2 separate regions of the Homo sapiens genome follow, and region 2 is linked to region 1. A link means that fine-mapping ties the variant in region 1 to the expression of a gene that starts in the linked region. Tissue or cell type: whole blood. Region 1 holds a variant in brackets; the other region holds the start of a gene. All regions are shown on one strand. Distances are from middle to middle.

The links. PIP is the estimated chance that this variant, and not a neighbour inherited with it, causes the effect.
Region 2: DOCK8 starts here. The variant in region 1 is fine-mapped to the expression of DOCK8 in whole blood (TOPMed, PIP above 0.99).

What each region holds. Positions count from the first base shown.
Region 1 is chr9:365,969-373,968 of GRCh38, reverse strand. DOCK8 (dedicator of cytokinesis 8) reads right to left here. Exons shown (of 48, transcript NM_203447.4): 15 at 5,834-5,951; 16 at 3,669-3,739; 17 at 2,403-2,541; 18 at 1,683-1,784. Among named protein-coding and RNA genes, the nearest start is that of DOCK8-AS2, 100 kb to the left of the region's middle. The variant A/T (reference allele first, on the strand shown) is at 4,716.
Region 2 is chr9:210,790-218,789 of GRCh38, reverse strand. It overlaps DOCK8 (dedicator of cytokinesis 8), which reads right to left and starts at 3,925. Exons shown (of 48, transcript NM_203447.4): 1 at 3,761-3,925. The coding sequence starts at 3,813. It overlaps DOCK8-AS1 (DOCK8 antisense RNA 1), which reads left to right and starts at 3,040. Exons shown (of 1, transcript NR_160804.1): 1 at 3,040-5,333. RefSeq lists silencers at 3,451-3,590, 3,761-3,810, 3,861-3,910, 3,921-4,170.

The DNA of each region.
Region 1 (8,000 bases):
TGTCTCTCTCCAACACTCAGGTCTTTCCTATAGCTTAAAAAGATAATAGGGGGTTCTAAGAAATTAGAGTGTGCAACTTGATGATAAGAAGGTGGTTTTGAGGGATACTGAAAGGTGTTGATGTCCAAATCATAAAGACCAATCAGGGAAATGTCTGTGGACATACTCGGATTGCCCCTTAGATGGCTTTGATGAGAGAAGTTTTGGTTTACCAGACACATGCCTGTGGTCCAGGGCAAAAGTTGGTTCTCTCTTTAAGGAAAAAAGAAAATAAGAGGAAAACAGCCGGAAGTGAGACGGTAGATGGCGAAAGAACAGAGAAGAAAGTTGACTGGAACGGTTGAAATTAAATTCAAATTTCTGAGAAATTCTTCAACTTAAAATTGCAAGGAAAGCAAAAGAGATGGAGGATCTGTAGATTAAAAGCGTCTCCAGAGATGTAACAATCAATATCAGTGTGTGGACCTTATCTGAATACCAATTTTAAAAAGCAAGCGTCAAAAATATAGCATTAGTGGGATAATTAAAAATTTGATCAGTGACTGAATATTTGATGATACTAAGAAATTACAGTTAAAATTTTAAAGTATGACAATGGTATTGTGATGGTTAAAAACAAATCCCTTATCTTTTAAGATGCAGACTAAAATGAAATATGATGTCCGAGATTTACTTCAAAATAATACTTATTGATGTAAACCTATGCAAGGAACTGAGAAGTGGGCTAGCAGTGTGACAGCTGGTGCAGTCAGGGTGGACAGTCCCCTGGGCTCCCTTTATTTATTTTTTATTTATTTATTTTGAGATGGAGTCTCACTCTGTCACCCAGGCTGCAGTGCAGTGGTGTGATCTCAGCTCACTGCAACCTCCACTTCCCAGGTTAAAGCGATTCTCCTGCCTCAGCCTCCCGAGTAGCTGGGATTACAGGCACCCGCCACCACGCCCGGCTAATTTTTTTGTATTTTTAGTAGAGATGGAGTTTCACCATGTTGGCCAGGCTGGTCTTGAACTTCTCACCTCAAGTGATCTGCCTGCCTCGGCCTCCCAAAGTGCTGGGATTACAGGCACCCAACAGCAGGCCCAGCTAATTTTTGTATTTTTAGTAGAGATGGGGTTTTGCCACCTTGGCCAGGCTGGTCTTGAAATCCTGACCTCAGTTGATCCACCTGGGCTTCTCTTTAAATGGGTGCACTGCAGCAGAGTGGATGAGCAAGAGAAAGTGCCAGAAACAGGAAGTGGGAAAGGCTATTGGCATTGGGATTGGTAGGAGAATAAATACCTTGGTATCTACCGGAGGGCTGTGACAACTGACCCAAGAAAGAAACGGATGAATCTGGCCTGGGAATCTTTTATAAGGATCCTTGATGGGAACAGTTGTTTACTATGAATGGCCTTAGTTTGCCTCCTCTTCTATAATACATTATTCTGGGAATCCCTCTGTGGTAGATAATGCAAGGTTATGCTGCCTTGGGTGTAGGTTGCGTCTACTGAACATTCTGATTTGGTGGCATTTAAAAGAATGAGGTTTCACAGTCAGTTATTCCTCCCATCCTATCAGAACAATGTGCTCTCTGAGAACATGATGAACATCCATGGCCACATGGGAATGGAAAGTGAGTCTGGGAAGGTGGTCCAAGACTACAGCTGGACAAGAAACAGCTGATGGCCAGCTTGCCAATTACCTCAGCAGAATGCATGGAGTAGTTGGGTGGCAATTTTTCCAAGGCAACTGGGAGACAGTAGGATCCAGTTTGAAGACGTTCATTTAAGAGAATTGGCAGCCACTGAAACAGATGATGTAAATAATAAAGTGGTATTTATTACAGCATATAATTCTGATAATTTATCTAGCTCGCAATAATCAAATGCAACTAAACAGTGAGTAGATATTGACCAGTACTCTTTTTGGCAGTAATTTCTGTCCAGTTCTTTGCATTTTAAATCTCCGAGACCTCCTGAAATGGTAATATTGATGATTTATTGCTTTTGGAGCTAAAGCAGTAGCATTTTTCTCTGTAGCCAATGTTTGTGTGTGTCTGAACAACATCAATGTTTATTTCACCTTTTATATCTTTTAAAGAAAAAATGGTTTCTTCTTGGGGGACAAAGCTAGTTCTATACGTGAAGCATGGATATTAAATTTGGAAATAGTGAACACTGCAATGCTTTTTAAAAAACAGATGAGTATTCTTCCAACATCTATCACCCGCTAGCTTTCCATTCCTGAAATTTGACATTTGCTAAGGCAAATCATTTCTGCCTCTTGCTATAATGTGGCTTAGCATGTTTTGCTACTTCTGACTGGAAAAAATCAAGTGAATAGAATTTGGTTGTTTATCTCTGCAGGGACCTCAGATGCACCAACAACTGCAGTGTGAGTCAGCAGGCTGGAAACAACTCACTGAATATCCCAGGAGAGTTTCCACGGAGGCTCCTTGCTTCTGCTGACAGCTGATATGGTAGAAGGTGAACAGGAGGTGGTGATTTACTGTGAGCTTAGCGGGGAGCTTAATTTTCACTTCTTCATAAAAGTCAGGAGACCTGTTTCAAAAGCACATTATACACAAATAACTTTTAGCAAGAATGATGACTTCTCTGATTGTAAAACGCCACAGCCCCTTTGCTCCTCAGAATTTGCCTGGTGTTTTGCTTTTCATTTTACATTACTCTGCTCTGAAGCTGGAAGTCCCTGAGACCAAGCTTATGTTATTAGATGCACTTCCCTTACATAAAACTGTTCATGAACTAAAGGCTTTGTCAGGAAAAACAAAAAACAAAAAACAAAAAACAAAAAACAACTCCCCCACACAATGGAAAACTCCAACAACTTAATTTGAAGAAAGGATGAGGTTTGGACTCCTGCTGTGACCTCCTTTTTCCATTTCTACCCAAGGAACCAAGCCTAGCACCTAGCTGCACTCATCAAAGAGTAGAAGCAAATGAATGAGGCAGGAGGAAAAAGGAACCAATTTAACTGCATTATGAAGCCCTAGGTTCTTCATTAATTACGAAGTACATTACGTACATTGTAAAGTAATGTAGGTATGTAATGTACATTACCTCACTTAATCCTCATCCCAATCCCAGAATGTGCTTAAATGAAGGACTTAATTAGGCCCAGGTTATCAGGCCCGGATCAAACCCAATTCCGTCCAACACTGTGCAGGTGTCTCTCCCTTCCCTGTGGAACATGAATAATAGGGTGGGCATTATCCCATGACTCCATTTGCCGGTGGAATAATGAGTGTTCCATTTCTCCTTTGGTCAGCCTAGGCAGACAGTGGGGCAGGTGTCAAGTGGAGCGGACAGGGACACACAGGGCAAGGGGAGCCGGACTGTGCTTCTGGTCCCCTCCAGGGTCTCAAAGCAAGTTAGGAAATGTGTTTCCTTAATTAACGTAATACAACCTCTTTGCATCATACTAGAATAGAAGCTTCTGGAAAAGTCAAAACTATATTGGATTCTTGAAGACACGTTCTTCTCTCAGTCTTGGTTAATGGCAAAGTTATACATCTTCAACACAGAGTCACGGAACTGGCATGGATTTCCTTTGCCCCTCAGTCCCTGAATTATAAAAATAGTTAGGAGGAACCACCCACGGGACTTGGAAAAACCAGGAGATGATGAAACCATCTTGGCATATATTTAGAATGCTGAAATAGACTTACTTATTATGGTATGTAACAGCTGTGTACACTTCCTGCAGAAATTCAGGCCCGCTGGATTTTCCAAAGATGACCTGTTCACCAGTAGAGAAAGGATCAAATTATCAGTAACATTTGGGTACATCAAATTGACTATCATCAGGCCAACAGGATGTTCTGGTCTCATAGAGCTGCATTTTGTACAATTAAGAGTGCTGGGTTGGCCAGGAGCAGTGGCTCACACCTGTAATCTCAGCACTCTGGGAGGTCGGCGTGGGAGAATGGCTTGAGCCCAGGAGTTGGAGACCAGCCTGGGCAACATGGCGAAACCTCATCTCTACAAAAAAATACAAAAATTAGCCAGGCGTGGTGGCACATGCGTATAGTCCCTGCTACTCAGGGGGCGGAGGCAAGAGGATCGCTTGAGCCTAGGAAGCAGAGGTTGCAGTGAGTCGAGATTGCACCATTGCACCCCAGCCTGGGCAAGAGTGAGATCCTGTCTCAAAAAGAAAAAAAAAAGTGCTGGGACTACAACTGGCCCAAGCACACCAGTGCAAAGGAACTGGCTATGAAGGGTGAAATGAGGTTCCAAGGGGCTATATTAGTGACCAAAGGCCACATGTTTGTGAGATTAGAAAACCAGTACTCTCTCCACTCTGCCTCACTGCCTAGAGGTCTATCCAACAGGCCAAAGTTACATACTTTTGTCTTGAGTGAGAAATCCCCAGTTCCAGGTTCTTCTCTCTCAAACATACAGACCTACTCACTTAGGTGATTTGAATCTCCACTGCCTTATCCACATTTGTGCCATTTAGAAAAAGATACCTCCTTGGGCCTGAAGCAGCATTTAGGATGCATTATGAACAAGTGCACTCACCTTTGTGCAGAGAAAAAAAGCTCTTTCCTCTAGATGCAGTAATCCCAACACCAGAACCCATGGCTCAGTGAATGAAGAACAGACTGGACTTTAGCCCACAGTCACTCTTGGCTGGGCATCTTGGTTGCCACAGGATCTGCACAAGCATATCTGGCACTCCTGGCAGTGGCATGCCAGGGGCCTGAGCAGAGAGG[A/T]CTAAGAGGACCCCACCGCTGTCTTAAGACACCTTGCATTGGGAAGACAGGTGGGACGTTAGGAGAAAGGTTTTTTTTTTTCTTTTTTTCTTTGGGTGGGACATTAAGAGAAAGGATTTTTTTCTTTTTCTTTTTAGAAAGGTATATTAACTGCGTGCAGTGGCTCACGCCTTTAGTCCCAGCACTTTAGGAGGCCAAGGCGGGTGGATCAGCTGAGGTCAGGAGTTTGAGACCACCCTGGCCAACATGGTGAAACCCCATCTCTACTAAAAATACAAAATTAGCTGGGCGTGGTGGCACGCGCCTGTAATCCCAGCTACTTGGAAGGCTGAGGCAGGAGAATCACTTGAACTTGGGAGGTGGAGGTTGCGGCCATTGTACTCCAGCCTGGGCAAAAAGAGTGAAACTCTGTCTCAAAAAAAAAAAAAAAAAAGAAAAAAAGAAAGAAAGTTATATTAACTGAATTCTATGACTTATGGGAAATAGTAATAGCTAACCACCATCTCATTTAGTAGGAGATGGTTTAAAAAGTATAAATTCTGGCATTTTGAGTTCCTTGGAGCACACTGCATTTTATATATATATATATATATGAATAATTTGATTTATATTTTGCCTCAGAACAAAGATCCACTCCTAGAAGGTGTGGAGGTGGTGTGTGTTTATAATTACTAGGCGGTACTTTGTATTCATCAGCACTGTGGTCCGAGGCTTGAGTAAGTGTGTAACACTGTGTGTGTATAACACAGTGTGTACAGTTTGTGCATGGAAGACACTCAGCAAACATGGCGCACGTGTTGAGCCATCTCTTTACTTTGTATGCCTTTAGAGTGGGGTGGTCCTATGGGCAGTATGGAAAGACTTTATGACTTTTTTTAATCCTCTAAAATGATCTGTATGTTCCAAGCTCACTACAGAATAAGCCGAGAAAGAGATCGTCAAGTAAGACTGACCCTGTTTCCCCACTGATATCCTGGGCACAGAAGCCCTTGCACATGCTGAGCAGTATTGGCCTGGAATAGACGGACTTTGTACACTGATGAGTCCCGGACTTGTGTGAAGTGACAGGGGTGAGCAGCCCACCCTGATTTGAGGCAAATGTTCGTTTCCCTCCTTACCGGCATCGCATTGCTAGCATCTTCTCCACACATAAACTGGATCTTTATTGTAATGTTCCGGGCTGATGCTAGTTTGTTTACAAAGTTCAGCCTCTGTGGGTAGACATAGAGAAGGTTTCTGGAAAAGAAGAGATAAAGAATCAATGAAAAAGGTCTAGAGTTTATTTTAACTAAGTTCTTCAGCAAATGCTGAGACTTCCATTCATGGGGTGCTTTTTCCAAAGAAGTTTTTCCTCTCAGAAGTGAATTATTATTGGGGGGAGTGAATTACTTGATTCTTCCTCTTCAGCTACAGTCATCTGAAAATAACCCCCATCGCTCTCTGTTTTGCTACAAGTAAAGATGTGTCTGCTGCAGCTTAGAAAGTCTTCATGTCTTGGAATGTGGAAATCTGCCTAGAGGTAATTGTCTATCTGATACACAGATAAAGAAGGCAAAAAAGGTCCAGCTCATTTTAAATAAAACTCATGGCCATAGATAATGGCCTACTTGTCATTCTTCTCTTTTTTCTTCCTAATCTTTATGTAATAGTTTCCTTTTCTTACTGGCATGGCACTCGTATTGGCTTAGCTTTCTGTTCTTATCTAAGATGGCAGCTCAAACCTCCAAGCTCAATTACTGTAAACGACAACAACAATAAGAATAATATATCCATCCATTTGACAACTATAGGACAGGTACTAGGCTACCCAGTGCCTGGGTAACTTGCATATATTTTTCTTTCTATTTGCATTATTAGTAGTAGATTCCACTACAGTGTAAGTTCCACAAGGACAGGGATTTTTCTCTCATGTTTTTGATTCACTGATGTATCTCCAGCACTAGAACAGTGCCTAGGACACAGGAGTATTAAGTAAGTGTTTGTTGAATGAAGGAATGAGTGTACACATAATTGATGAAGTATATTCCTGGCTTGAAGAAACAATAATAATGATACTAACATTTAAACAGGACTTATCCTGAGTCAGGCCAATGTTCCAAATACTTCATATTTACTAATTTGTTTAATTCTCATAGCTATCCTATAGGTTGGTACTATTATCATTGTCATCATCCCCATGTCACAAGTGAGGAACAAATGAGATACAGAGATGTTAGGTAATACACCCCATATCATATAACTAAATGGCAGAGCGGGGAATTCAACCCAGACTGTCTAGTTCCAGAGTCATGCTCATAACCACTGTATTCTCTCAGATAAGAGCCCTGATAAGCATGGCCTTTCCATACTGTGCTATCCTGACATCTCTCAGGGACAAGTTTGCCTTAATTTTCTAGGTATTAACAGTGGCATGTCAACCTGCATTTCCCAGCCTGTCCCACAGAGCCCTAGTGCTCTGCAAAGTGTTAACAAGTGTATGGGGAAGGTAGGGGGCGTTGAGCAAAAATGTGCTTGGGAAAGAGCAAGGCAAAGCGAGATAAACAGGTTACTGTGCACTGAGAATGCCTCAGAAGGAGAAAGACTCTTCTTTCCCCAAATGTTTTGACCTCAGAACTCCTTTCATTTATTTATCCTTTCATGGTAGCTTTTATGAATTTAACATTCTGAGAAATTATTTGGGGACACATTGAGATAAACTTACCTAGTCACAGAAGAACATCCCACATCAAGGAAAGAAAAGTTAGGGCACAGGGATTCTCAAATCTCTTGCAAAATAATGAATGCTCTCAGGTATTCGAGAGGAAAAATGATAATTGGAACAATCAAGAACACACAGGAGCCGTTACGTTGGATGTGCAAGTTCAAAGGCCATGGAGGCAAATAAATAGTATTCCTAGGTCTTATTTTACCCTCATCTCTCTATTTTGGGTGACTCCCTGGAGGCAGAATGGGGCTGGCCTGGTGCTGGGAGCAAGTATGAGTTGCTGTACCCTGTGACTTTCTGGGCTGATATGTGACAATACTCAATGAGCTTCAAGTATCAGTGAGGTGCAGATGGTCTTCCCAGAAGAGTAGATGACAGGCCATGTCACAATGAAGGGATCAGCATAGAATTCTGGGGTGCTCAGGCCAGGAGGCACCTAGACTGAGCCCCAACTTTTAAAGATGAGACACATGATAAACGAGCCACAGAGCAGGCAGAGGCCCACTGCAGGGCTGTTTCTACTCAGCCACTGGCTGACTTAGCAGCACTTCCCAAATCGTGCTCTGTCTAAACAGAGGCAG
Region 2 (8,000 bases), 160 kb after region 1:
ACAAGAGGGTTAATGTTTTTTTCTGCATTCTACACTTTCGTCCTCTTTATCCAAGGTTCTTATTTTACTTTAATATTTGATCAAATTTTACATCTATTCTGTATTTGAAAGACACTAAGATTTTGTTTAATAAATTTTCAGAGTACTAGTAATAATTTTTATAATCTACAAAGGCACTAAATTCCAGTAAGAAAAAAGGCAATTAACAAGACTAGATGTTCCCACAAGTACCATGTTATGACATTTAATGCAGCAGCACCTGAAATCCCAAACGCAAATGTTATTACGAACTGCCTAACTTAGATCTAGTCTTTCCTTGGCACGCAAGTCAGCAACAAAAAAATGGAAATGAAGACAAGTATATAGCACTTACAAGAAAATTAATTTCACCTTTCTTCTCAGACTGTGAGATAGTCTGCTCACTCCTTCTGGAGACTGGTGTGGTCAGAACTGAACGCTTTACAAATAATATTTTTAATATATCAGATTTGAATACTTCATTAACAGGAAGCACACTGGTTTTATCCCACAAATATTTTTAAGAGATAGTTTACACTATTCTGAGTAGTAAGGTGAAAAACATGAGCACATGCTGAATGTACTAATGGCCATATTTCAACACAGTCTTACTTTTGGAATTTGACCTATTTAAAAAAAATAATAGGTAGGCACGTAAGGGAAAACATTTCTTTTCCACCTTCAACATTGCAAAACATCACATTGTTAATGTTTATATATTAAACACTAATCAGAAACAGAACACTTTGCCAATGCTGCTACCAAAATGATGATTTTTTAAAAATTAATTCCCCTCTTGCTTTAAAGGAAATTCTTGGGATACATATGCATCAAAATAACAATCGGCCCAATTAAGAGCACAGTCTTTGGAGCAGTTTGCAATCCCAGCTCTGCCATTGCTGGTTGTATGGTCTTGAAAAAATTACATGGCCTTGTGCAGCTGTATCTCCAAGATTCCTTTTCCTCTTCTGTACAAGACTTCATGAGTTTGATAGGCTTTTTGTGAGAATTTAATCATAAAATCCATTAACTGTATAATATAGTGTCTGGGACACAATAAGTAAACAATAAATGGTGAAATTAAATGATATATGAATACTAGGTATGTCCTTATTAATCTGCTCCTTTGAATAATAATTTCTGCCAAGCTCCTTAGCATAACTCTCCCACACAACACACAGAGTGCTTCAAAAAGGAAAACAGAACTCTAAGAATACGAATTTCCAATCCATTTTCTTGCCTGAGGATTATAGAACCTTTTATACTTTATTAAACTTGAGGGGGCTCTTCTTGATCAGATTTCATCACATATTTTCTTCCATTGAATGTGTTTTGGGTTCTCAGCACCAGATGGAAGGCACAGGCGGAGAAACACTGGCCCCAAGAAAGCTCCCAGCCAGCCACTGGCATCTCCATACCTAACCCAAACTGATCTCTGCCTGAAGCTCTCCAACTTCAGCTTTCCTTCCTACCTTTCTATCTTAGGCTCTCAAAGATGGTGATGATGGAGATAATGACAGCAGTGAAGCTGATTGTAATGTTAATGATGGCAACTAAGAATTATTCACCATTTATTCTGAGCCAGACACTACAAGCAACATGCAATCAACATGAAAATCATTAACAAGACATTTTGCATTATTTTTTCTGTACTGTCTCTAAATTCCAATGTGTATGTTACACATCCAGCACTTGGCAATTCGGACTTTGTACCTATTATTCATTTAATCCTCCCCACAGTCATAAGAAGTAGGTACTATGATCAACTCTACTTGGCACATAAAGAAACCAAAGCTTAGAGAAGTTAAGTAACATGTCCAATGTTGCACAGTGACTTTGTAGCAGAGAGCCAATTTGCAAGCAGATCAGACACTAACCAGGGCCTTTATTCTTAACCCCCAGGTGACACCGACCCCGCAGTTGCTTGCAAGACTGCCTGTAGGATTAGTCCGGGTCTCGGCCACTCACCCCAGATCAACCCTGCCCAACCCCATAGTTTCTAACATCTTTCTGCCCCAGTCACACTTCCTGATCTAAAATTCACAAAGACAGAGGATCAGGAGCTATAGCAAATAATACACCCATCAGTAACTTCAGTTTGATTCCCTATACTCCTTGAATGAATTACCCCTCCTGGCATGCAACAGCTATGAACCTTAATGTAGAAAAAAATTCCCATAGGGAGATCCCTGATATACTTCATGCCTTGTTTTTGCTTTTTTTTTTTTTTTTTTGTCTGTTTTTTGAGACAAGGTTTCACTCTCTCACCCAGGCTGGAATGCAGTGGCATGATCACAGCTGTGATCCTCCTGGGCTCAAGCGATGCTCTTGTCTCAGCCTCTTGAATAGCTGGGGCTACAGGTGCATGCAACCACACCTGGCTAATGTTTTAAAATTATTTTTTTGTAGCCACAGGGGTCCCACTATGTTGCCCAGGCTGGTCTCAAACTCTGGGCTCAAGTAATCCTCCCATCTGGGCCTCCCAAATTGCTGGGATTAGAGGTGTGAGCCATGGCACCCAGCCTCTTTATGCCTTTTGACTAGTACCTTTTGGCCTCCAACATTAATATGCAATATACATAAATAATTAAACTCATTTTACAGATGACGAAATAGTAAGGTAAGAGAAACAGTTTGCTGGCAGTCACGTATCAAGTGGAAATAAAATCGTCAATAAAGCTCGATATGCCCTCTAGAAGACCTTATCGCCTTGTTTTTCTAGGCTTTTAATTCCTTGTTCAAACCTCTTCACACACTAACAGCACAAAGATGAACCTACGGTGGAATCCACCTTTCACAGGCTCAGCTAAGTGAAGATTAACAAATCGGACAGCCCTGTGGGCAATAGAATAAGTTGACACTTTAGAATGAGTTTCCTATTATCTTTTAACTAGACAGTCTAGCTTTCTCAGGGCAAGACAAAAATGTCCCAATTACTTGTCAGCAGTTTTTAGTGGAGGAAAAACTGCAGTTAAAGCACCTTTACTGAGAACTTTGAGCAGTAAATGTGCTTACATATTTAGTTTGTGCAACTTTGATTAGGAATTGGATGGTGAGTTGGGATCCCCCAGTCCTTAGCTTTTTGCTGGAGTTCTGTAAATCTCAAAATGTCAGCCACAGGCCATTTCTTTTGGTTTATTTAAGTGTAGATTTTTTAAAAAATCACTTTTTCCACTTCATGGCTCCTTTGGACCAGGGTATAAAAATAGCGATGCCACCAGGAGCCAAGCTCTTTCTGGAATAATGAAGCAGGCGAGGACGGAGCCTTGCTCAGGACGACAGAAGGCTTGCAGCCTGCCTCAAACGCAACTCTAATTTCAGCCACTTCACTTCTTCCCCCCGCGCTCAGACTTGCCTCAAAGGAAGGAGCCGTTTATGAGACACTCCGTGGCGCGCCCAACACGGTTACCCAGGCGCCTATCACCCTTCTGGGACCCGGCCACCTGTAAGAACCTGGAGGGCGGAGCGGGCGAGGTTGTTCGGGGAAGGGATCCCCGGCGGCTGAGGACATCCAGGAGCACCGAGATTCTTGGGGAGGACCTCGCCGGGCCCAGCGCAGGAGCCGCCGCGCGTCCAGCGGCTCCACCGCCGCAGCCTCGGGAACCGGGCGCCCCAGGTCTCAGGCGCGCCCCGCCGCGGACGCGAATGGACTCGTCCGGCCTCGGCCCCTGCAGCGAAGCTCCGCTTCACACCAGCGCTGGGCTGTCCGGCCGCAACCTGCGCGCCGCGGGGGGCGTCTTACCTGTTGATCTTGAGCGCGAACGCGCGGCGCTCTGCGCTCGGCAGAGTGGCCATGGCCCGCCGGCGGTTCGGTGGCTTCTAGGGTCGCGGGGTGCGGAAAGCGGGGGCCTGGCGCGCCGCAGAGTAGCCGCGGAACATGCCCAGCCAAGCGCAAACCTCGTCTGTCGGTCGGCGCTGGAAACTTCCGCATTTCCACCTTCTAAGCCGAAATCACCCCGGGGGAGGGTCCGAGCTCGGAGCAGCGACGGCCGGCTCCGCCACCCGGCCTGGCGCGCAGGCAGCGGCGGGCGAGGAGGGCGTGGGCCCAGCGCGGAACTGGCCTCCCGATACTGGGGCAGACGGCGCGCTCTGCCCGGGGCCGCCGACCTCCGGCCGAAGGGAGCGCGGGCGGACGACAGGCGACCACTGCGCGCAGGCCGGAAGCTCCATCTGCCCGAAGCTGCGAGGCTGCCAGGGAATGTAGGCAAGTCGGGGGAGCCCCACAAAGCTGGCGAGGTCGGGAATCACCCCAGGGATTCGTAAGGCTAGGTGTTATTAAGGGTTGACACCATTCTCGAAGAAGGCAGCCAAAAAAAAAGACAAAAAAGTTAGTGGAATCTATCAGGATTCAAATCAACTTTTGCAAGCAATATGCCCATCATCCTTCCTGAGACACTAAATAAATATAATGGATTCATCCAAGGAATAAACATTATGAGTTCTCAAAAAATGTTTTCGTCACAACCTGGCGTGAATGCTTTTCTCCGGAGAAACACTGAAGGCGGCGTTCTTGCGATTCAAGGGTACGCTGCGTCCAGGTTTATTTCAGTTTCAGACTGAGGTCTGCTAAGAAGCCCGGCCTCAAACTCAAGATAAAAACAGAAAAGTCCCAGTGTTGACGGGAGTGGAGGAGCCCGTGTTCGCTTCAAGGTGCCGGCGTGCTGCTCTAACCTGTGCTATATATACTCGAGCACTCTCCATATAATGCCTCCATTTACCAACTTGCTCTTAAAAAATACCAAAGCAGGCCGGGCGCGGTGGCTCACGCCTGTGATCCCAGCACTTTGGGAGGCCGAGGCGGGCGCATCACGAGGTCAGGAGATCGAGACCATCCTGGCCAACGTGGTGAAACCCCGTCTCTACTAAAATACAAAAAATTAGCCGGGCGTGGTGGCGCACGCCTTAGTCCCAGCTACTTGGGAGGCTGAGGCAGGGGAATCACTTGAACCCGGGAGGCGGAGCTTGCAGTGAACCGAGATCTGCCACTGCACTCCAGCCTGGCGACAGAGCAAGTCTCCGTCTAAAAGAAAAAAAAAAAAACAACCAAAGCGAAGTATTTTTGGTTCAAACCTGCACTATTTAATATGATAGCCACTAGCCACATGTGGCTATTGACCACTCGGCATTATGGTTAGTCTGAATTGCCCACTGCTGGATGTGTAAAATGTACACTGGAATTTAAAGACAGCGCAGAAAACATCGTGTAAAATGTCTTGTTAATGATTTTCATGTTGATTGCATGTTAAATGATACTTTGGATATAAAAAATATATTATTAAAGTTAATTTCACCTGTTTGTTTTCCCCTTTTAAAAATGTGGTTTGCATTTTTAAAAATGTAAAATTACACATGTGGCTCACATTTGTGAGCCTCATTATATTCCTATTGGACAGTGCCAGTCCAATACAACCTAATTTGTCACCTAATACTAAAATCCACCTAAGGACTATATTCAGTCTCTTCCTGATACAGCCTTCCTTCCTGGTTTCAGCTGTGTCAGGTAGTTTAGTAACTTTTCAGTACTGGTTAGGTAACTCCCCGCCCCCCAATGCCCACCAAATATCAGTGCCCTTTTAAGCATATAAGACAAAGTTCACTGCATAGACTACAATAGACTACATACGAAAACAAACCCAAAGAAAAATAAAGCTTTTTTGAAATTTAGAGTTTCTGACTTTCAAAACTGTCCTTATTTACTACATTGGAATTTATGAGCAAACATTTGGATAGCAAAATACAAAGAGAACAAATGTGTAAGTACTTCTTCAAACTGAGACTCAACGAATGATACATAGAAAACATTTTGCCCCAGAGGCTTCGGTCCACGGTGTACCATGTCAGCCTTTCGGATGAACTCCTCTGAATTTCTGAATGTTTATGACATACATTTTCATATAGAACAAAAATATACTGGTTTCACACAAACATAAATAAAATGTAATGAAAGCATCTCAGATTTTCAGCATTTGCAATCAAGGAAACTTTTTGGGTGAATGTGGGAATCATAAAACCTTCCATCTTGCCTCAGATCATACTGCAATAGATTTAGTATTTGGTACCTAACCATGAAGGTTAGGCCAGCATTATTATCCTCTGTGCTGTCAATTTCTTGATGGTTAGAATTGTCTCCAGATTTCCTTAACACTCTTTTAACAATTCACCATGAATGTGTTATCCATTAATTTAGTCAAATGCCTGTTTTCAAGTTTGATCTGCTGTTAGATACATTCACATATTGCTGGCAAATAGCCATCCAAGTGCCTTTCTTCCTTATTCTCACTGCCTCTTTCGTTTTCCATCAGCCCTCTGTCCAGAGAGAACTCTGGGAGGCCTCCTTCTTTCCGCATCTGATGGTCTCTCTTGGCCTTCCTCTTTCTCCGTATCTTTGTGTCATTCAATTTTGTTTTTCACCTTTATACAACTCTTCCCTTGACTTCTATCTCAGACCATACATCAATTATCCTAAATGCTCTAGTTTTCCCCACATCTTCTTCTTACCTCCCCAGAAAGCCGACCTCTTTCTCTACATTGCATCTTACCTATTTTATTGAACAAACAACTAAATAACACTTATCTTGTACCGGGTACTGCTCCAAGTCCTTTATAAAAATTAATTCATAGCAACCATTAAATAATAACATTAACCCCCCCACACATACCTCTTTGCAACTGGAGAAACTGAGGCTTAGAGAAGTTAAGTGACTTGACCAAGATTACAAACTAGTAAGGGCAGAGCCATTTCCTATCCTAAAGTTTTGCCTATTTCCCAGATTTCTGTACTCTAACATCTTCAAACTCCAGTATAAAACTAAAATTCTCCATCTACCCTACTTAACTGGAAGCTAGCTATCTCTCCATAATCACACATTTTTTGGGGGGTCGGTGGTGGCACACTACTTCCTCATTTTCCAGGTTTAAAACTTTGGAGTCATCCAGTGGAGGGAAAAGCAGGAAATCTGGGTTCTGGCTTCAGCTTTTTGCTAATTGTGTAATCCCGAGTAAGTCACACGGTCTTTGGATCACAGAGGCCTGTATCTTGGAATGACTCCATCTGCTTGCCTCTCTCTGAACTTTAGAAATACGTCAGCTCTAACTTTTTTTCCTCCTGTGTCCTTCAGATCTAATCACCTACCAAGGTCTGCCATTTATTTCTTATAAATATCACTTCTTTGTAAATATCACTGTTCTCACAGTGGCTTTCATTCCGGTCCAGCCCTTATAAATTAATACCTAGATAACAAAAATAAGATTTTAAATGGCTTCACTGCCTGTAGCCTCTTCTTTCTCCTATCTCATCTGTTTCTATCACTAGATGAAGTTTACTAAAATACCTGTTTCACCATATTTCTTCTCTGCTCATTTAGCTTTGGTGACTTCCTGTAGCCTCTATGACCAAGCGTGACCTTTTCTAGCTAGCTCGTATGCCCACTTCACAAAACCAGCTTTATTCTTTACCTTTCTGTTGGAGCAGGGAAGATCTCCAGCTTGTCCCTAAAGCAGGCGGTGCTCCTGTCTGCCCAGGCCCTCTTCCTGCTTACGTTATCCTTCCTGCTGTCCTCGCCTCGCACCACATCCAGTCTCTGCCCATCCCTCAGGGTCTGAGTCAAGCTACCATGCTCCATCTCTATTGGATGGAGTGTCTCTTTCAGTCTGACAGCATCATTTAATTAATTAAAAGTGTGGGTCATTACCAATAAACACAGCGCAGTGGAATGCAAGATCCTGAGGACAGGACTAGAGAGGAAAAAAAAGTGTGATCATTTTCATGTCCCTTCCTTCTTCCCCAAAACCACGCAGGACCTCCCCAGATTTAGTTCAAATGTCACCTTCCAAGAACATCTAGTTAACATGACAGTGCCCCCTTCCCTTGTCCTGACACTTTCTAACTCCTTTTCCAACTTTGTTTTTCTCCATAGCTGTTATGACCATCTGACATACTATATATTTTATTTATTTGTTTATTATCTCTTATGCTTCTAGAA